Homo sapiens: one gene and its partners. The protein of the gene in region 1 purifies or fractionates together with the protein of each later gene. This does not show direct contact. Each region holds a gene or a part of one and is shown in the gene's direction. Other genes may lie near its edges.

Evidence for each region.
Region 2: the proteins of ARF4 (region 1) and ACADM fractionate together in Homo sapiens (co-fractionation; one large-scale study listed by BioGRID). This does not show direct contact.
Region 3: the proteins of ARF4 (region 1) and PSAT1 fractionate together in Homo sapiens (co-fractionation; one large-scale study listed by BioGRID). This does not show direct contact.
Region 4: the proteins of ARF4 (region 1) and LMAN2 purify together in Homo sapiens (affinity purification with mass spectrometry; one large-scale study listed by BioGRID and IntAct). This does not show direct contact.
Region 5: the proteins of ARF4 (region 1) and XPNPEP3 purify together in Homo sapiens (co-immunoprecipitation; one large-scale study listed by IntAct). This does not show direct contact.
Region 6: the proteins of ARF4 (region 1) and RAB3IP purify together in Homo sapiens (pull-down; one study listed by IntAct). This does not show direct contact.

What each region holds. Positions count from the first base shown.
Region 1 is NC_000003.12:57,583,845-57,587,344, reverse strand, and holds part of ARF4 (ADP-ribosylation factor 4), read left to right. Parts: intron 1-2,880; coding exon 2,881-2,961; intron 2,962-3,337; coding exon 3,338-3,447; intron 3,448-3,500.
Region 2 is NC_000001.11:75,738,209-75,741,708, forward strand, and holds part of ACADM (medium-chain specific acyl-CoA dehydrogenase, mitochondrial isoform a precursor), read left to right. Parts: intron 1-1,771; coding exon 1,772-1,902; intron 1,903-3,500. UniProt on the Homo sapiens protein: Medium-chain specific acyl-CoA dehydrogenase is one of the acyl-CoA dehydrogenases that catalyze the first step of mitochondrial fatty acid beta-oxidation, an aerobic process breaking down fatty acids into acetyl-CoA and allowing the production of energy from fats.
Region 3 is NC_000009.12:78,300,125-78,303,624, forward strand, and holds part of PSAT1 (phosphoserine aminotransferase), read left to right. Parts: intron 1-477; coding exon 478-538; intron 539-1,829; coding exon 1,830-1,899; intron 1,900-3,500. UniProt on the Homo sapiens protein: Involved in L-serine biosynthesis via the phosphorylated pathway, a three-step pathway converting the glycolytic intermediate 3-phospho-D-glycerate into L-serine.
Region 4 is NC_000005.10:177,341,669-177,345,168, reverse strand, and holds part of LMAN2 (vesicular integral-membrane protein VIP36 precursor), read left to right. Parts: intron 1-3,500. UniProt on the Homo sapiens protein: Plays a role as an intracellular lectin in the early secretory pathway. Interacts with N-acetyl-D-galactosamine and high-mannose type glycans and may also bind to O-linked glycans.
Region 5 is NC_000022.11:40,884,648-40,888,147, forward strand, and holds part of XPNPEP3 (xaa-Pro aminopeptidase 3), read left to right. Parts: intron 1-1,665; coding exon 1,666-1,868; intron 1,869-3,500. UniProt on the Homo sapiens protein: Catalyzes the removal of a penultimate prolyl residue from the N-termini of peptides, such as Leu-Pro-Ala. Also shows low activity towards peptides with Ala or Ser at the P1 position.
Region 6 is NC_000012.12:69,759,360-69,762,859, forward strand, and holds part of RAB3IP (rab-3A-interacting protein isoform alpha 1), read left to right. Parts: intron 1-3,500. UniProt on the Homo sapiens protein: Guanine nucleotide exchange factor (GEF) which may activate RAB8A and RAB8B. Promotes the exchange of GDP to GTP, converting inactive GDP-bound Rab proteins into their active GTP-bound form.

The sequences.
Region 1 (3,500 bases):
ACTTTTTTTTTTTTTTTTTTTTTTTGAGACTGAGTTCCGCTCTTGTTGTCCAGGCTGTAGTGCAATGGCACGATCTCGGCTCACTGCAACATCCGCCTCCTGGGTTCAAGCGAGTCTCCTGCCTCAGCCTCCAGAGTATCTGGGATTATAGGCATATGCCACCACATCCAGCTAGTTTCTGTATTTTTAGTAGAGACGGGATTTTACCATGTTGGCCAGGCTGGTCTCAAACTCCTGGCCTCAGGTGATTCGCCCACCTCAGCCTCCCAAAGTACTGTGATTACAGGCATGAGCCACAGCGCCAGGCCTTACCTTGTTTTTAAATGACAATCTGAGGTCCAGTTGGACCTCCGGTGATAACTGGCAGGTACCATAGTTTTGTGTGTGTGCGTGTGTGTGTGTGTTTCTTAATCAGCGTCTCAGTTTCAATTCTGACTTGGCTTAATCATATTTGAACTTAAAGGTTAATTTTGGTTAACTTAAAAATCTGATGCTTTCAAGAGACAGCTTTGTTGGACCATTTAAAGATCCAGTTGTTTTTTGCCACCCCCCTTTGTTTTATATCTTGTTACTAAAGATGCCAAACTTTAATGTAGCTCCTTTTTATGTATTTTTTAGAATTATGTTTTCTGATTTTTTTGATAATGTTCCATGCTCAAAAAATAAAACACTTGTATAACAGTTGGTTTTTATTATTATGCTCATGAATGAGGGCTTGATGTGGGCTGATCACACTGACTAGTAGTTGGGAAGGAATAAACCTGTATCCGAGTACGAAGTGGGGAACAGGGTTTTACAGGACAAAGGAATAAAAGGCTTGAGTCTCCAAAAAGAACTTAAAGTTATTCTTGGTAGGGTACAGAGTAGAAAGGGTTGTTAAGAGGGTAGAAGGAATCAGAATTGCCTGTAGCCTTCGCTTCTGTTTTGGACTAACTGATAAAAGATAGACTTACTTGCATAGGAATGTAAATTAGATAAGTGAGATAATTTCAGCTCTTTTTTAACTTACTAGCATTGCTTTTATGTGCTAAGTCATGCTTTGATTTAAATATTAAGAAAGTGTCCTTGCTTAAATCAATACTTGATTGAATCGATACAAAAATCTGTGATAAGATAAACCCAGGCGGCCAGATATGATATCCTAAGAACAATGATAGATTCAATGAGGTTATTAGATGTTGATCTTTCATTTATGAGGGCTTTAGCAAACACTGCAGAATATTCAGGTTTTGAGAGATTCATACTTACAAGCATTTAATTTGTTCTTCACTGTCACCCTACAAGGAGGTATAGCCTCTTGTTCTAGTGTGGATTTTTTTTCACAAGCAAACACATTCCTCCCTACTTGTACTTCTGCCTCAACTGAATCATTTTAAGAATTTAGGCCGGACACAGTGGTTCACATCTGTAATCACAGCACTTTGAGAGGCTGAGGCGGGCAGATCACCCGAGGTCAGGAGTTCAAGACCAGCCTGGCCAACATGGTGAAACCCCGTCTCTACTAAAAATACAAATTAGCTGGGGTGTGGTGGCACGCACCTGTAATCCCAGTTACTCCGGAAGCTGAGGTAGGAGAATCGCTTGAACCTGGGAGATGGAGGTTGCAGTGAGCTGATATTGCACCATTGCACTTCAGCCTGGGTGACAGAGTGATACTCTGTCTCAAAAAAAAAAAAAAAGAATTTAGATATTACTTATATTGTAGATGAATGTGATAGGGTCTTTTATTATTATACTTTAAGTTCTAGGGTACATGTGCACAATGTGCAGGTTTGTTACATATGTATACATGTGCCATGTTGGTGTGCTGCACCCATTAACTCGTTGTTTACATTAGGTAATGTGATAGGGCCATTTTTATAACAGGTTAATCAGACTTTGGTTTTCATTTTGGCACATTTAATGTTGAAATGGATTTAAGCAGGGGTAAAATTGGCTTCATCTTCCTTTATTATCATTATAAGGTCACTAGGACATAGTTACATTAAGTTCATTAGAACATAGTTATACCACTAGGACATACTTATACCAGTGTATTTTTTACCCCTTAGCATCAAAATCTGTTACCCAAATTTTACTCTGTAAATAAGAGAAAATATTTTTACAAATCTTAAGAATTCTTTATTCACTTACATGTTGTCTGAATCAACTTCTAATTTGTGTTTTTAAAAATGGTAGTATGGCTGGGCACGGTGGCTCACGCTTGTAATCCCAGCACATTGGCAGGCCCAGGCTGGCAGATCACTTGAGGCCAGGAGTTTGAGACCAGCCTGGCCAACATGGTGAAACCCCGTCTCTACTAAAAATACAAAAATTAGCCGGGCGTGGTGGTGGGCGCCTGTAGTCCCAGCTACTTGGGAGGCTGAGGCAGGAGAATTGCTCGAACCCGGGAGGTGGAGGTTACAGTGAGCTGAGATCATGCCACTTCACTCCCGCCTGGACAACAGAGCGAGAATACGTCCCCCCGCTCCCCTGCCCCTCCACCCCCCAAAAAATGCTGGTAGTTCATAGAATTTAATTGGAAGAGATCTTAGATGATCTGATCCAGTCCCTTTATTTATGGCTAATTTCTCTGGTCTCAGTGTCCTAAAGTCACTCAACTAGTTTGTCGCAAAGCTAGAGATTAGAGCCTAAGTCAGCTACATACTTGTTACCTTTTACTAGTACATGCTGTCTCTCTTGGTCTAGAAAGCAGAATGGAAAGGCTTTCTGTAGGAAGTGTTGCCTTTGGGAATCAGAAATAAGGTCATTTCATTTCTAACTCATTTAGAAGTTGTCTTGAACAGTCAACTTCTAGTTTTGAACTATAAATTTATTGTAAAATTATTTCTTGGAGTGTGCTTTTGGTCTGGATTTTAAATCTATAATGTCTTCTTCTAGTTGGATTGGATGCTGCTGGCAAGACAACCATTCTGTATAAACTGAAGTTAGGGGAGATAGTCACCACCATTCCTACCATTGGTAAGAAAGTTTACAGATGACTTTATATCATGATATGTTGTAAAGTGAAATATATACAGTCTAGTTTTGAGATTGTCTTTTTGTTAAGCATGTTGATTATCTTAGAAGTACTTTTAAAACAGGCCGGGTGTGGTGGCTCATGCCTGTAATCCCAGCACTTTGGGAGGCCGAGGCGGGTGGATTGCTTGAGCCCAGGAGTTCAAGACCAGCCTGCATAACATAATGAGGCCTTGTCTCTGTTGATGTTTAGGCTTAAATATATTTTTTAAAAATAAAAAGAAGTACTTTAAAAACACTATTCTAAGAAAATTCCACAATAAAAGGTTTTATTTTCTTAATGACGCTGCACAGCGGTCATTTTTGTTTTTCTTTGTAGGTTTTAATGTGGAAACAGTAGAATATAAGAACATTTGTTTCACAGTATGGGATGTTGGTGGTCAAGATAGAATTAGGCCTCTCTGGAAGCATTACTTCCAGAATACCCAGGTAAGGGATACTGTATGTTTTTATAACTTTTCTTTGTGGGTTTCATGCTCTAA
Region 2 (3,500 bases), on another chromosome or scaffold:
CCCAGCCAAGTATTGTTATTATTTTTTTTTTCTGAAATGGAGTCTCGCTCTGTTGCCTAGGCTGGAGTGCAGTGGCACCATCTCGGCTCACTGCAACCTCCACCTCCCAGGTTCAAGCAATTCTTCCTCAGCCTCCCAAGTAGCTGGGATTACAGGCGCCCGCCACCAAGCCTGGCTAAGTTTTTGTATTTTTAGTAGAGACAGGGTTTCACCATGTTGGCCAGGCTGGTCTCGAACTCCTAACCTCAGGTGACCCACCTGCCTCGGCCTCCCAAAGTGCTGGGATTACAAACCTGAAGCCTCAGCCACCACGCCCGGCCCTAAGTAATCATTTCTAGTGCCCCTATATATGCTTACTACTTTGAATTAAAATGTATATAGTTTCTTTCTTTTTTGTTGTATATTTTTAAAAAATAAATTGACATGGGTTCTCGGCATGTTGACCAGGCTGGTCTTGAACTCCTGGTCTCAAGCGATCCTCCCATCTCAGCCTCACAAAATGCTAGGATTACAGGTGGGGGGCCACCATGCTCGGCCCAGTTTCTTTCTTCTTTGGACTGTAAGTACCTTAAGGGCAAGTAACTTGTTTCTTTAGTATCCACAGTACCGGCCACTCTTGAATTAACTTGCACTAACACTTGCCTTCTACCACCCCCTTTTATCCATTACTGCTTGTGTCTTGTCACTCCTCTGTTTAAGAGCTCTAAGAGGCTCCCCTGTTTCTACCAGATAAAATTTTAAATTTGTAATGTGATATAAAAGATTCTCGTCGACCATTTCCTTCCTTTCTTTCCAGACTCATGTCTTACCATTCCCTTACATGCACAGAATTTACATACTGTGGAACTCTGGTACTTTCAGCATTAGAAACACTGGGTAACTCTGTTTCTTATCTTAGTGTCATAGCATATGCCATTACTTGTACCTGGAATGCATATTCTTCCTCTTTTTCCCTCCTCGCAAAGAAGCCATTTTCCTTTTTGAGACTTAATTTAAACATCCTCTGCCCTGGGAAACTAGTTTCTCAAGCCCCTTGTCTGACTTTCACACATAGAGTTGCAGTATAGTTATTTATCTTCACTGTTACATTGTGAAAATCTCTAGGACTGAATGTCTTTTACCTCTGGTTTCCCCATATCCTAATTTACATCGTGGTACATAGTAGATATTCAATACATGTTTGCATGAATGAATACATGTGAAATTGAATTTAATGAACTTGTTTAAAGCTATCTAACATTTTCACTTTTTATTAAATATATGATTTGTTGATATACCTATGCCTAATTTGAATTATATATTAAGTGTTTTTAGGCCAGGCACTGTGGCTCATACCTGTAGTCCCAGCACTTTGGGAGGCTGAGGCAGAGGATTGCCTGAGCCCAGGAGGTTGAGACCAGCCTAGGCAACACAGTGAGATGCCATGTCTACAAAAAATTTAAAATTAGCTGGGCATGGTGATGTGTGCTTGCAGTCTCAGCTATTATACACGGGAGGCTGAGGCGGGAGGATTTCCTGAGTCCAGGAAGCCAAGACTGCATTGAGCCTCTGCATTCCAGCCTGGGCAAGAGAGTGAGACCCTGTCTCTTACAAACAAAACAGAAAAGTTTTTACATTTGAGTGGTTTCTTTGATTTTGTAAGAACATTTTAATTTTAGATATTTAAAAATATTTAAAATACAGCTTAAAAAATAAAACAATCCTGTTTCCAAACAGTCAAAATTTAATCACTAACATTTAATTTCATTTCTCTTGTTTTTATATATTCAAGGCTTATTGTGTAACAGAACCTGGAGCAGGCTCTGATGTAGCTGGTATAAAGACCAAAGCAGAAAAGAAAGGAGATGAGTATATTATTAATGGTCAGAAGATGTGGATAACCAACGGAGGAAAAGCTAATTGGTATGTTGTTCAAAACATCTTTGTATATTTTTTCTTAATTGTTTTATCTTCAAATCTCTCTTTCTTTCTGTATATTTTTAAACCACTACAGTTAAGGTATGTTTGTGGAACTGGAAGGCCTAAAGGAGATTATAAACAGTTCAGTGATTTTCAAAAACTAATTTTAAGCCCCTGCACTGTTTTTTCAAATTAACTCTCAGAAGTTTAATGTGTAAAATAAAATACAAATGCGTGCTCTGTTTGAATCTGATTAGGAAGGCTAGCACTCTGTCTACTTGGCTTATTATCTCCACTCCTCATCTCCTATACCAGCCGCTCCTTGGAATCCCTAAAACCCTAAGGAAAAAGGAGAACCTTTGGTATAGTGCCTGTCTCCAGATGTCAGAAATAAACAGAGTCAGTCTTAAAACAGGTTATCTATTAGAGAAGACAGAATTTGACTTTAATAAAATCTGAAATTTTCTAATATATGGTCAAAAAATATGAAGTTCAACAAAGGATCAAAAATAATTTGTATAAATATAAAATACTAAAAAAAAACACTCGATTATTTGTTGATAAAAGATGAGGAAAGTTCAATAACTGTTAAGTTCAATAAGAATCAATAGTATGAGCCTTTAAAAAGCCAATGTAATTTTAAGCCAAAGTAATAGAAGTACAGCATCAAATAGAGAAAAAATGGTGACAGTTCTGGGCAACACATTTTAAAACATGTATTGAAAAACTTGACTAAATCTAGAAGCATGTAAGTATCTTGCATTAGGAGGAGCCTACAAAACATGTTCTGAAAAGCAAAGCCTTGGTTATTTTGGAAGAATCTTGAAGTTTTTCAAATATTATTACACAGAAAGATGATCAGGCTTATATGTTTACTTCAGGATGCCAGCTTAGAATTAATGAGTGAAAGTTAGAAAAATGTAGAATTTAGCTTAACATAAGGACAGGCTTTCTATCAGCAGTGCTGTTAAGTTGTCATGGGAAATACTGTATTTACCCATCACTACAAGTATATAGAGAGTTTCTAGAATAACTTTTTATTGATTGGAATAATGTACTAAATGACCTGTCTCTCTTTGTAAAAAATTCAGATTCAATATATTTGTGTGCCATATACTACAGTTTTCTAGCAAATAAAACATCATTTTTTTTCAGAGTGAGCCTACTAAAAAGTTACTTAGATTAAACATATCAGTCAATTCCTTATGAGCATCCTAAATATATTCAGTATTATGGAGTGCTATATCTTTACCTTTAACCAATTCCTGGTAATATCAGCAACTAATAAAAAGTGAAGAAACTATTAAAATTTAACAAGTTGAGAGAAATCTAACAATGCAGTTTGAAGTTTTCGTAATTTTAAAAACGGATTAGCCAGGTGCAATCACTCACGTCTACAATCCCAGCAGTTTTGGAGGCTGAGGCAGGAGGATTGCTTGAGCCCAGGGGTTCAAGACCAGCTTGGGCAACATAACGAGACCCCATCTTTACAAAATTAAAACAAAAAGAAAGAACTGATTACAACTGTTCACTGTTCATATAGTAAGGCAAATTAGGTAATATATGAAACCAGATAACAATTTTTACGATTTTGTTACTAT
Region 3 (3,500 bases), on another chromosome or scaffold:
TGGGACGAATCTTATTCACAGCAGGCTCTTCCTTCTTCCTGCCCACCCCACGCTTCCCAGTCTAGCACCTTAGACCAAAAGAGATCGGAAAATTGAGTTACCTGTATAATCTGGGCATAATTTTTTTATCGTTGTCCCTTTAACCCAGAACTTTATGCATTCTTTACTTTAGCTTTAGGAGAGTGGTGAATGAGATTTGTGAAGGGGACATTTTCTAGGGAATCGGTAAATTCGGGCCTTTGGAAAAAGTGTATCAACATCAGTCACATTGCCTAATTTCATGCTTACCTTGTGTGTAAGTTGCATAATCGCTGGCTTTGTGGACATGGGAAGGAAGGAGACTGGCTGTGGGTGGGGATGGAAGCCTGGGGACCTCACTGTAGACCCTTCCTTGTCCCCTCGTCAGGTTTGTATGTTCAGAGGGAAAGCAGTGCAGAACATATTTAAATAACCCTATTTTCCTTTATTTTTTTCTAGGTGTTGTTAGAGATACAAAAGGAATTATTAGACTACAAAGGAGTTGGCATTAGTGTTCTTGGTAAGATTTACTTTTGAATTCTGTGAATGTCCATGTTTCAAAGGAAGCTTTTTTTTTTTTTTTTTTTTTTAGAGGCAGGGTCCTGCTCTGTCACCCAGGCTGGAGTACAGTGGCGTGATCATAGTTCACTGCAGCCTCCAACTCCTGGGCTCAAGTGACCCTCCTGCCTCAGCATCCTGAGTAGCTAGGACTATAGGTACACATCACCACACCTGGCTAATTTTTTTTAAATGTTTAAAACATTTTTTAAAGATCCCATGAGATGGGATCTCACTTTGTTGCCCAGGCTGATCTGAAACTCGTGGCCTGAAGCCATCCTCCCACATTGGCCTCCCAAAGTTTTGGGATTACAGGCTTGAGCCACTGAGCCCTGGCCCAAAGGGAACTAATTTAAATGCATCAAATATAGAATTACAGGGCCTATAGGGTCTTCCTATAGGCCTTTATAGATACATTTTTAAACTTTAATAGCTTGGGTTGCATGTCTGATAGAAACCATTTTGAAAATAGCATAAATGCTGGTGAGAGGTTCTGACATCTCAGCTTACCCTGTCATAATTGGTTTTTGCTAATCATAGGATTTAGGATCAGAAGATACTGTATATTTGCATAACAGTGCCTCCAAACATTTATAATATTGCTTTACATTCAATTTACAGTTTTTATTATACTTAAATACAACCTCATTAAAGTTTAAAAGTACATAAGCCTTTTATGAAGACCTCGCACATTGATAATCTTATTAAGTTTCCCCTATATTTTTTGGGAAGAGGACCTCTGCATTCTAAAACTTATTTTCTTTTATTTTTGGCGGTTCTGAAGACTGCATGGTATTAAGAGACCATAGGGTTAACTATATTGCTTATTTCTGTTAAATTTTGCTCCTGTTGGTTTGGGACATATACTTAGATTTCTGTGAAGTGAGATCACAGCATGGAATTTTGTGCTCCAGACCTAAAGGGCAACTGTTGCACATGGATTCCTGTTTGTGAGAAAGAGATGGTAAGAAGAATCACAGAGAGCATCACGGAGTGATGAATTAATAAATAACTTGCTCAGTGAATGTACCACTTGAAAAATCCTTCTGCCATGACTATAAAGCTAAAATGTTTGCAATTTGAAAATCAGTTTGTATGGTCCCCTAAACTAAGTGAGCCTTGGCCCACAATTTGAATGCAGAATAACTGAAATTTCCCTGTATTGTTGTTTACTTGCAAATTTCGTAGGTATTTCTGTTCATTTGGTTTTGAGCTGGAATATTTGTTATTGTTGTTTATCTTTCCTTTCACAGAAATGAGTCACAGGTCATCAGATTTTGCCAAGATTATTAACAATACAGAGAATCTTGTGCGGGAATTGCTGTAAGTTTTAAAAAGACCAAATCATGTTACTTTTGTTAGATACTTCCTAAATCTGGATGTCTTCCAGTATTTTCTACACTCTATTGTTTGTTCAGAATATTTCATAATTTAAAATAATCCTTGTAAGATTCTCTCCAATTCACTATTAGTACCTAACGCTTTTTATTTGTTCCCCATCCCGTGTTTATATGTTTTTGTTTTTATTTTATGTGATATTTCCAAAGATTTGAAATCATTGTATCTAGGAATGATTTTTCAGCACTGTGGCAGTTAAACTGGTGTGAAAGAGATGTAAATGACACAGAAATGGTCATCTTTGTCAGCATAATTGACTATAAACTAGTTCAGGTGTTCTCGAAGTTTGAGTCTCATACGATCTGTCAGAGTCACCTGGTTAGGGGGAATATTAAAAAATTCAAGTGGGGCCGGGCAAGGTGGCTCATGCCTGTAATCCCAGCACTTTGGGAGGCCGAGGCGGGTGGATCGTGAGATCAGGAGATCAAGACCATGCTGGCTACCACGGTGAAACCCCATCTACTAAAAATACAAAAAAAGAAAAAATTAGCTGGGCATGGTGGCGCATACCTGTATTCCCAGCTATTCGGGAGGCTGAGGCAGGAGAATCGCTTGAACCAGGGAGGCGGAGTTTGCAGTGAGCCGAGACCGTGCCACTGCATTCCAGCTTAGGTGACAAAGCGAGACTCCGTCTCAAAAAAAAAAAAAAAAAAAAAAAAAAAATCAAGTGGTGGGCACCACTTAGTCCTGCTGAATCAGAATCTCTGGAGAGACTTTATTTTTAACAGGCTCTTTGGGTAATTGTAAGAGTTCTGAACTGTAGGAACTACTGCTTAGACGAAATCTCCTGGGTTATCTGTACTGCCTTTCCTATCCAGAGAATCCCTTATTCTTAAATAGATTGCTATTTAAAGGAGAGATTTTTATATATTATATAAACATGTTCACATAAACCTACGAATATAGCAAGTTTGAAAGCATACCATTTTTTTTCCTGCTCACAGAAATAATGCACATTTATGGTAGGAAAAACACTGTAGCTCACAACTAAACTGAAATTAACTTTAACCCCACTAATCAGGGATAATCACTAATATGTTAGGACCCATTCTTGCATTATTACATTAACAAAATTGGAATTATACTGATTATTTCAAGTTTTCTTTTTCAAATTGCTTGATAAAATGATTCAGATGGGGCAGGCTTGGTGATATTTCTGTGAGGAGCTGTAGACGCTAATTGCAATGTGAATGTTCAGAGCTGGTAGCCATCTGCTTGGCTTCTCTCGTCCATTGGCCTGCTGAGTATCATGTCACATTCATAGGACAATCCTGTCCTTCATGGAGTGGGTATTTGGAACATCAGCCTGGGAGAGATGACATTTGACCACATGGCTATGAACTTCCTCTGACTGGGGTCCCAGTTCAATTTAAGGGCCTATCTTTTCTTCTCCTAACCTGGTTCCCACCTTGTATACCTGTACCTAGACCTCGGCCTGGTTTCTTTCCATCTAATTCTTGGCCTTGTTAACTGCCCTGCATCTGAATAATGTGAACCTGGAACTCTGTCTTGGGTTATCAGTCTTC
Region 4 (3,500 bases), on another chromosome or scaffold:
AGGGTTTCACCATGTTGACTAGGCTGGTCGTGAACTCTGGGCTCAAGCAGTCCACCCACCTTGCCCTCCCAGAGTGCTGGGATTACAGGCATGAGCCACTGCGCCCAGCCTGACAATGGCATTTAAAAGATGTCATGGCTATGTAAAAAAATGTTTCCACTGTTGTACGTACACATCTGCACATGCAAGAAAATTTCTCAAATCTTTCTTCCTTTTCTTTTCTCTTCTCTTCTTTCTCTTCTTTTCTTTTCTTTTCTTTTTTTGAGACAGGGTCTCACTCTGTTGCCCAGGCTGGAGTGCAGTGGCGCGATCTCGGCTCACCACAACCTCTGCCTCCCGGGTTCAAGTGATTTTCCTGCCTCAGCCTCCCTAGTAGCTGGGACTACAGGCGCCCGCCACCGCACCCGGCTAATTTTTGTATTTTTAGTAGGACGAGGTTTCACCATGTTGGCCAGGCTTGGTCTTGAGCTCCTGACCTCAGGTGATCTGCCTGCCTCGGCCTCCCAAAGTGCTGGGATTACAGGTGTGAGCCACTGCATCTGGTCAAATTTCTCAAATATTTCTATTGTGATAAAATGTATGTAACACAGGCTGGGCGCGGTGGCTCACGCCTATAATCCCAGCACTTTGGGAGACCGAGGTAGGTGGATCACGAGGTCAGGAGATCAAGACCATCCTGGCCAACATGGTGAAACCCCGTCTCTACTAAAAATACAACTAATTAGCTGGTCATGGTGGCGTGTTCCTGTAATCCCAGCTACTCAGGAGGCTGAGGCAGGAGAATTGAACCAGGGAGGCAGAGGTTGCAGTGAGCTGAGATCACGCCACTGCACTCCACCCTGGCGACAGAGCAAGACTCTGTCTCAAAAAAAAAAAAAAAAAAAAAAGTAACAAAGCGTACCATTTTAACCAGTTTTTAAAATTAAAAAAAAATTTTTTTTTTTTTAGAGATGGGGGGGGTCTCACTTTGTCACGGAGGCTGGAGTGCAGTGGTGCAATCCTAGCTCATTGCAGCCTCGAACTCCTGGAGTCCAGTGATCCTCCTGCTTAGTGTCCTGAGTAGCTGGGATTACAAGGCATGTGCTATTGTGCCTGGCTAATTTTTTTTTTTTTAATTTTTTGTAGAGCTGGGGTCTCACTATGCTGCCCCGGGCTGGTCTCGAACTCCTGGCCTCAAGCAATCCTCCTGCCTTGGCCTCCCAAAGTGCTGGGATTACAGGCGTGAGCTACTGCGCCTGGCCCATTTTAACCATTTTTAAGTGTACAGGTCAGTGGCATTAAGTGCATTCACATTGCTGTGTAGCCATCACCACCGTCTGTCTCCAGAACTCTTTGCTCATCCCAACTGAAACTCTCTACCCATTTAACAATCACTCCCATCCCCACAGTCCCTGGTAACCACCATTCTACCTCATCTCTGTAAATTTGACTATTCTAGGCATCTCACATAAATGATAAATGGAGGCATACAATATTTGTCTTCTTTGACTTATTTTACTGAGCATATGTTGAACGTTCCTCCATACTGTAGTATATGTCAGTACTGCATTCCTTTTTGTTGCTGAGTAATATTCGTGTGTGTGTGTGTGTGTGTGTGTGTGTGTCTAGACCACATTCCGTGTATTCATCTATTCGTAATGGACACTTGGGTTGTTTCCATCTGTTGCCATTGTGAATAGTGCTGCAGTGAACATTGGTATACAAGTATCTGTTTGAATCCTACTTTCAGTTCTTTTGGGTATATACCCAGGAAGTAGAATCTCTGGATCATACGGTCATTCTATTTTTACTTTTTTGAGGACTACCAAACGGTTTTCTGTAGCAACTGCACCATTTTATATTCCCACCAGCAATGCACAAGGATTCCAATTTCTCCACATCCTTGCCAACATTTGTTATTATTTATTTATTTATTGAGATGAAGTCTCGCCCTGTCGCCAGGCTGGAGTGCAGTGGCGCGATCTCGGCTCGCTGGAACCTCTGCCTCCCGGGTTCAAGTGATTTTCCTGCCTCAGCCTCCCGAATAGCTGGGACTACAGGTGCCTGCCACCATGCCCAGTTAATTTTTTTAATATTTTTAGTAGAGACAGGGTTTCACCGTGTTAGCCAGGACGGTCTCCATCTCTTGACCTCGTGATCTGCCCGCCTTGGCCTCCCAAAGTGCTGGGACTACAGGCATGAGCCACCGCGCCCGGCCTAGGGTTTTTTAATATATTCTAGATATTAATCCCTTATCAGATATGTGATTTGCAAATATTTTCTCCTATTCTGTGGGTTGTCTTTTCACCCTCTTGATCATGCTCTTTGATGTACAAAAATTTTAGTTTTAGTGAAGTACAATTTATCTTTTTTTTTTTTTTGTCTGTGCTTTTGGTGCTATATCCAAGAAATCTTTACTAAATCCAGTGTCATGAACATTTTTTCCCTAGATTTTCTTCTAAGAGTTTTAAAGGGTTTTTTTGTTGGTTTGTTTATTGTTTTTTGAGGCAGGGTCTCATTTTATTGCCTAGGCCGGAGTGCAGTGGCGTGAACACGGCTCACTGCAGCCTTGACCTCTCCAGCTCAAGTGATCCTCCTGCCTCAGCCCCACAAGTAGCTGGGACTACAGGCATGCGCAGTCAGGCCCAGCTAATTTTTGTATTTTTTTGTAGAGACAGGTTTTCACCGTGTTGCCTGGGCTAGTCTTGAACTTCTGCGCTCTGGTGATCCACCTGCCTCAGCCTCCCAAAGTGTTTCAGATTACAGGTGTGAGCCACTGCAACCGGCCAGGTTTGAGCTCTTAAGTTTAGATCTCTGATCTTTATATACTTATTATTATTTTTTTTTATAGAGATGGAGTCTTGCTGTGTTGCCCAGGCTGGTCTTGAACTCCTTGGCTCAAGCAAACCTCCCATGATGGCCTCCCAAGGTGCTGGGACTACAGGTATGAGCTACTGCACCTGGCCTCTTTACTTTTCAAATTAAACTTTTTATTTTGACATAATTATAAATTCACATGCCGTTGCAGGAAATAATACAGAGATCCTAGGTGCCCTTGGGTTTTGTTTTTTTATTTAGCATTTAGTCCATTTACATTTAATGAAATATGATACATTTGGGTTTAATCTGCTATCTTACTCTATATATTCAAATTGCCTATTCTCTGTTCATTTTTCTCTCTAGTCTTCTTTTAGGTTAATTTTTATTATCCTATTTTTCCTCTTCTATTAGCTTGAAAGTTATATGCTCTTTTCTCAGTTTTAAGTGGTCACCCTAGAATTTAAAGCAGGCATTCATGTTGTACCAAAGACTAATGATAATGTGTACTTTACCTTCTTCCTGGACAGTGCAAGGATCCTAACACACTTTAACTCCATTTATTGTTGTCATTTGTTTTAATTATTTCTGTTTTAAATCACACAACCCATTGTTTTGTGCAGTCAGATATTTAGATTTTCACCCTTATAGTCACTGTATTTGTTGTTCTTCGTTCCTTCTGGAATCTGACTTTACATCTGGAT
Region 5 (3,500 bases), on another chromosome or scaffold:
TGAAAGGTTTAAAAACCTTTAAAAAAGTGAGCTATGATTTCATACACTTTGAACGTGTAGTAGAGATTGTTTTACTTTTTAAAAATTACAACAATTGGCCGGGTGCAGTGGCTCACGCCTGTAATCCCAGCACTTCGGGAGGCCAAGGGAGGTGGATTGCCTGAGATCAGGAGTTCGAGACCAGTCTGGACAACATGGTGAAACCCCGTCTCTACTAAAAATACGAAAAAATTAGCTGGACGTGGTGGCATGCGCCTGTAATCCCAGCTACTTGGGAGGTTGAGGCAGGGGAATTGCTTGAACCAGGGAGGTGGAGGTTGCAGTGAGCCGAGATCGCGCCACTGCACTCCAGCCTGGGTGACAGAGCAAGACTACGTCTCAAAAAAAAAAAAAATTACACGACAATTAAATTTCCATCTATCGTAAGTAGGAAGGTGTTTCCCATGTAGTATATATTTAGAACCATTTTTATTTTAAAAATGAAAATATGTAGGACATAGAATCACATAGGACATAGAATCATAGAATCAGTGCATATCCAATCAAAGTTTTCTGGATTTTTTCCCCTCTACTTTCCCCAAAGTACTTTTTAGTCATATAAAATATTCAGACCTTCTCACTTGGATTGTTAGGAATACTGTTTGTAGCCTACTGTTAGAAAAAAAGAACAAATGTAGATCTGATATTAAGTGCAAATCATTTTTATAATGAGCCTTTATATCGTATATCTTAGGCAAATACAGACCATTTCCTTAGGTCTCTAAAGTTGAAAGCTGAACTGTGATTGTTTACAAAGAGAATGTATAGCAGATGCAAAGGGAGAAGTGAGGAAATATCAACTGTAGTTTTTCCATAGCAATGAATAATTGCTCCAGAATGGGAGGAGAACCCTTTCCTCTAGTACTGAGATCATTATGTGAAAGGATGGGACACTTTACCCATAAAGTCATGATCTGAGTATGTTTTTCTGTCCTTCTGTGTGCAATTATTCAACAAGTGCCTCTAGCTCAGTAAGTGGTGGTGAAGAACAGTTGTTCTAATTGTTTAATAATGAAGGCCGGGCATGGTGATTCACGCCTGTAATCTCAGCACTTTGGGAGACTGAGGCGGGTGGATCACAAGTCAGGAGTTCGAGACCAGCCTGACCAATATGGTGAAACCTCATCTCTACTGAAAATACAAAAATTAGCTGGGCATGGTGGCGGGCACCTGTAGTCCCAGCTACTTGGGAGGCTGAGGCAGAAGAATCGTTTGAACCTGGGAGGCGGAGGTTGCAGTGAGCTGAGATTGTGCCACTGCACTCCAGCCTGGGCAACAGAGCAAGACTCCATCTCAAAAATAAAGAGAGAGAGAAAGAGAGAAAATCAAAGCTTGACTAAAGCTTTAGTCCCGTATCATCCTTTATAAAGAACACTGAAGTTTAGGGGCAGAAAAGCTGTATATTCAGTCTTAGAATATCTTGCCATTTCCAGGGAATGACCTTTCTAATGATTTATAATCAAACCTTTATTGCTTCAGTCCTGAGAGAGTCTTAAGTCTCAACACTTTAGAGTTCCACGTTACAGGTTTTATAGTTTTGACTCTTGTTCAAGTCGTTATGACAGTTGATATTTCTTGTTGCTGGTAGTTTTGTTTTAAATTTATTTTTCGGCTTCTCATTCTAAGCTGAGACGAACATGGTTTGGTATGACTGGATGAGGCCCTCACATGCACAGCTTCACTCTGACTATATGCAGCCCCTGACTGAGGCCAAAGCCAAGAGCAAGAACAAGGTTCGGGGTGTTCAGCAGCTGATACAGCGCCTCCGGCTGATCAAGTCTCCTGCAGAAATTGAACGAATGCAGATTGCTGGGAAGCTGACATCACAGGTATGATTCCTATTGAAAAGTTTTTTCCAGCCGGGCGCGGTGGCTCACGCCTGTAATCCAAGCACTTTGGGAGGCCGAGGCAGGTGGATCATGAGGTCAGGAGATCGAGACCATCCTGGCTAACATGGTGAAACCCCGTCTCTACTAAAAAAACATAAAAAATTAGCCGGGCATGGTGGCGGGCTCCTGTAGTCCCAGCTACTCGGTAGGCTGAGGCAGGAGAATGGTGTGAACCCGGGAGGCAGAGCTTGCAGTGAGCCGAGATCGGGCCACTGCACTCCAGCCTGGGCGACAGAGCGAGACTCCATCTCAAAAAAAAAAAAAAAAACAAGAAAAAAAGAAAAAGTTTTTTCCAGATTGGAAAAATCGTAAGCTCTTGAGGTCGTATACCCAATGCAGCAGTCTCCTCACCGCAGAATGGCATCTAGCTTCTGCTCCAGTGTGTAGTGAACATACCTAGAGACTTGCTTAATACCTTGCAAGACAAAGTAAATCTGCCTTCTGTTAAGATGGTTCTTTTACCCATCAATCTTAATTATTTCTCCTTAGAACGACAGAAATTAATACTGTTTCTTTTCCTTATAGTTACACTAATAGTGTCAGTTAAACAGTTTGGTTCTAAGAAAGACTCAGGACCCAAAGTGACAATGCTTACAGATCTGCAGTTTATTATAGGAAAAGGGTAAAAAATAACCATAATATGAAAGTAAGGATATATATCACAGCCAATGGCTGTCTCAAAGCAAGGAGTCTAGAGAAGCCAGGTGCAGGCTTCTCTGGTCCTCCCTAGGTGAGGGCCAGGCAGGATGTATCTTTCTCTTACAGATTAGGAATCACCAGTGTTGTCATACTCTGCTCAGGCTGCCATTACAAAATATCACAGTCTGCATGGCTTAAACAAGAGAAATGTATTGTCTCATAATTTTGCAGTCTGGAAGTCCGAGATCAAGGTGCCATCATGGTCCATTTCTGGTGAGGGCTCTCCCGGCTTACAGAAGGCGGCTTTCTTGCTGTGTCCTTACATGACAGTGAAAGAGGGCCTTTTTACAAGGCCATGGTCCTATCAAATTAGAGCCCCACCCTTAATTACCTAATTTAACCTTAACTACCTCCTAAAGACATAGAGATTAGAGCTTTAACACATTAATTCTGCGGGAAACACAATTCAGTCCATGGCACATGCAACAGACTACCTCAGAATCAGAGACTCCAAAATGGAATCTCAGCTAGGGATTTTTGTTTTTTTGGTCACATAATCATATTCCTGCTACGTAACAGTAAAGCCCCCCGAGAGTTTTCACAGAGACCAAGTGTAAACCATAAATCTCACTGGCAAACTGATAGAAACTATCCCAAAACTCCCTATTTCATTTATTCTCTCCAAGGTGTTGGCCATTGACTTAATTTAAAAAAATCTTTTTACTGTGGTGAAATGTGCATAACATAAAATATATCATTTTAACCGTTTTTAAGTATGCAAATCAATGACATTAAGTACATTCACATTGTTGTGCCCACTTTTTCCCGACTTTCTCCATCATTCCAAATAGAAACTGTACAGATAAATAATAACTTCCCATTCTCCCCTCCTCCAGCCCCCAGTAACCTCTACTTTCTCTGTGAATCTACCTA
Region 6 (3,500 bases), on another chromosome or scaffold:
AATGAAGTCTCCTATGTCTACTTCTTTCTACACAGACACAGCAACAATCTGATTTCTCTATCTTTTCCCCACCTTTCCCCCTTTTCTATTCCACAAAACCGCCATCGTCATCATGGCCCGTTCTCAATGAGCTGTTGGGTACACCTCCCAGACGGGGTGGTGGCCGGGCAGAGGAGCTCCTCACTTCCCAGAAGGGGCGGCCGGGCAGAGGCGCCTCCGACCTCCCGGACGGGGCGGCGGCCGGGCGGAGGCGCCCCCCACCTCCCTCCTGGACGGGGCGGCTGGCTGGGCGGGGGCTGAACCCCCACCTCCCGGACGGGGCGGCTGGCCGGGCAGGGGCTGACCCCCCACCTCCCTCCCGGACGGGGCGGCTGCCGGGCGGGGGCTGACCCCCCACCTCCCTCCCGGATGGGGCGGCTGGCCGGGCGGGGGCTGACCTCCCACCTCCCTCCCGGACGGGGCGGCTGCCGGGCGGAGGGGCTCCTCACTTCTCAGACGGGGCTGCCGGGCAGAGACGCTCCTCACCTCCCAGACGGGGTCGCGGCTGGACAGAGGCGCTCCCCACATCTCAGACGATGGGTGGCCGGGCAGAGACGCTCCTCACTTCCCAGACGGGGTGGCGGCCGGGCAGAGGCTGCAATCTCGTCACTTTGGGAGGCCAAGGCAGGCGGCTGGGAGGTGGAGGTTGTAGCTAGCCGAGATCATGCCACTGCACTCCAGCCTGGGCAACATTGAGCCCTGAGTGAATGAGACTCCGTCTGCAATCCCGGCACCTCGGGAGGCCGAGGCTGGCGGATCACTCACGGTTAGGAGCTGGAGACCAGCCCGGCCAACACAGCGAAACCCCGTCTCCACCAAAAAAATACGAAAACCAGTCAGGCGTGGCGGCGTGCGCCTGCAATAGCAGGCACTCGGCAGGCTGAGGCAGGAGAATCAGGCAGGGAGGTTGCAGTGAGCCAAGATGGCAGCAGTACAGTCCAGCTTTGGCTCGGCATCAGAGGGAGACCGTGGAAAGAGAGGGCGAGGGAGACCGTGGGGAGAGGGAGAGGGAGACTGTGGGGAGAGGGAGAGGGAGAGGGAGAGCCTCCAACTCTCCTCTTGCTCAGGATCCGTTTGGGGACTTGCTCTGTGTGTTCATTCCTTTGGTATTCATTTCTTCATGTGGATCCAGATTTCCAACTCGTATCATTTTTCCTTTGGCTTGAAGGACATCCTTTTACATTTTTGTTGTGCATGTTTGATGGTGATAAATTCTTTTAGCTTTTGTATGTCTGTGTTCATTTTTGGTTTTTGAAAGATATTTTCACTGAGTAAAGAATTTAAGATTGATAATTTTTTTTTTTTTGTTACTGTAAAGATGTTGCTTCAGTGTTTTCAAGCATGTACATTGTTTCTCACAAGAAGTCTGCTGTTACCCTTACCTTTGTTCCTCTGCGTATTAGGTCTTTTCTCTCTGGCTGCTTATGAGAGTCCTCTCTCACTGGCATAAGCAATGTGATTGTGATTTGCTTTGGTGTAGTTTCTTCAGCTTTCTTATGTTTGGGATTTATTGAGCTTCTTGAAGCTGTAGGTTGTTAGTTTTCATAAAATTTGGGAAATTTTGGCCTTTATATCTTCAAAAAGTTTTCCATTCTTCCTCTCTCTCTCCTTTCCTCTGGATTCCTATTACATGTACATTAGACTGCTTAAACTTATCTCACAGCTTGCTGGTGTTACAGTCTTTCATTTAAAAATCTTTTTTTCCTCACTGTGTTTCATTGTGGGTAGTTTCTATTGCTATGTCTTCAAAGTCACTACTCTTTTCTTCTGAAATATCTAATCTGTTAATCCCATACAGTATGTTTTTAAACTAGACATTGTAGTTTTCATCTCTGAAAGTTTGATTTGGATCTTTTTTATACTTTGCTTGCTCTGCTTAATATGTTGGGATGCAGTTTAATAAATGTTTTGTTTCTAATTATTTCATCTCTTCAGATAATAAGCTGGGGCAGATCTGGGGTGCACATTTTGTTTTTCATTTCTAGGGGATCACTGTCTTTTATTGCCTAATATCAAATGCTTCAAATTGTTGATCCATATATTTTTTCAGAGTTTTAGTTGTGTCAGATGGGTGGTAAATCTAATCCCTGTTCCTCTATCTTAATTGGAAGTGAAAGTTCTACTTACTCATTTATATTACTTCATTGTCTACCCCATTCAAGTAATCCACATAGAAAAACCTGCATTTATACACACATGCTTCAGTACTTCTGAGATTCATGAGGATAAGGATTGCATATGTTTGTGCTCATGATTATATCTTGAGCATATAATGGGTTTTCAATACATTTTGTTGATTAAATGAATATATACATGTATATGCGGTTATACAAGTGTTTGTATACACACATGCCTGATATATTAGGGTGATGCTTATAAGTAACCCCCAAATTTTCGTGACTTTACCTAATAGAAGTTCATTTTTATTCATTTAACACTCTGAAGCAGATGTTCATAGTTGGTAGGCAGTTCTCTGTGAAATAATTCAGAGATCTGTTTCTCTTCTGTTTGGGGCCTTTGTAATTTCTTAGGGTTTTATTGTTATTTGTATCTAACCAATGAGACAAAAGGGAAAGACAGCTTAGAGAAGGTACAGCTTCTTCTAAAAAACCTTGGCTTAGATATGATACACATCACTTTTGCTCACATTCTATTGGTGTGAACCTTTCATGCCAATACCTAGATGTATGGTGGGCTGGGTAATGTAATCCCTGGATGGACAACCACTTCCCAGCAACAAATCCATACTGTGTGTGTAGGGGGACCAATCATGTGGTCACTTATTTTCAGGTGCAGGGATGCCAGAGATTATGATGTAGTCATTTAGCTGTTTGGCCTTCCATAGGATATTTCTGAAGAGCAGCTTTTAGTGGAATTCTCAGGAGGAAATTGGGCTTTAGTGCATTCTTATTAAGTATAGATCCTTGCACTCTACTCCAGATCTGCTGAAATCAAATTATTGTGTTGAGGTTTGGGAATATGCATTTTCATCAAACTTGTTGATTCTTACATTCACTAAAAGGTGAAATCTGCTGTAAGAGGTTATTTTAAACTTTTATTTTTCTTAAAAGAAAATGAGCTGGGCGAAGTGGCTCACGCCTGTAGTCCCAGCACTTTGGGAGGCCGAGGCGGGCAGATCACCAGGTTAGGAGATCGAGACCATCCTGGCTAACACGGTGAAACCGCTTCTCTACTAAAAATACAAAAAATTAGCCAGGTGTGGTGGCAGACGCCTGTAGTCCCAGCTGCTTGGGAGGCTGAGGCAGGAGACTGGCGTGAACCCAGGAGGTGGAGCTTGCAGTGAGCTGAGATTGCGCCACTGCACTCCAGCCTAGGCAACAGAGGGAGACTCCGTCTCAAAAAAAAAAAAAAAAAAAAAAAGAAAAAAGAGAAAAAGAGAAAAAGAAAAAGAAAATGAAATGACTTAGAAAATAAAGCCCAGTAGGATAGCTTGCAAAGAG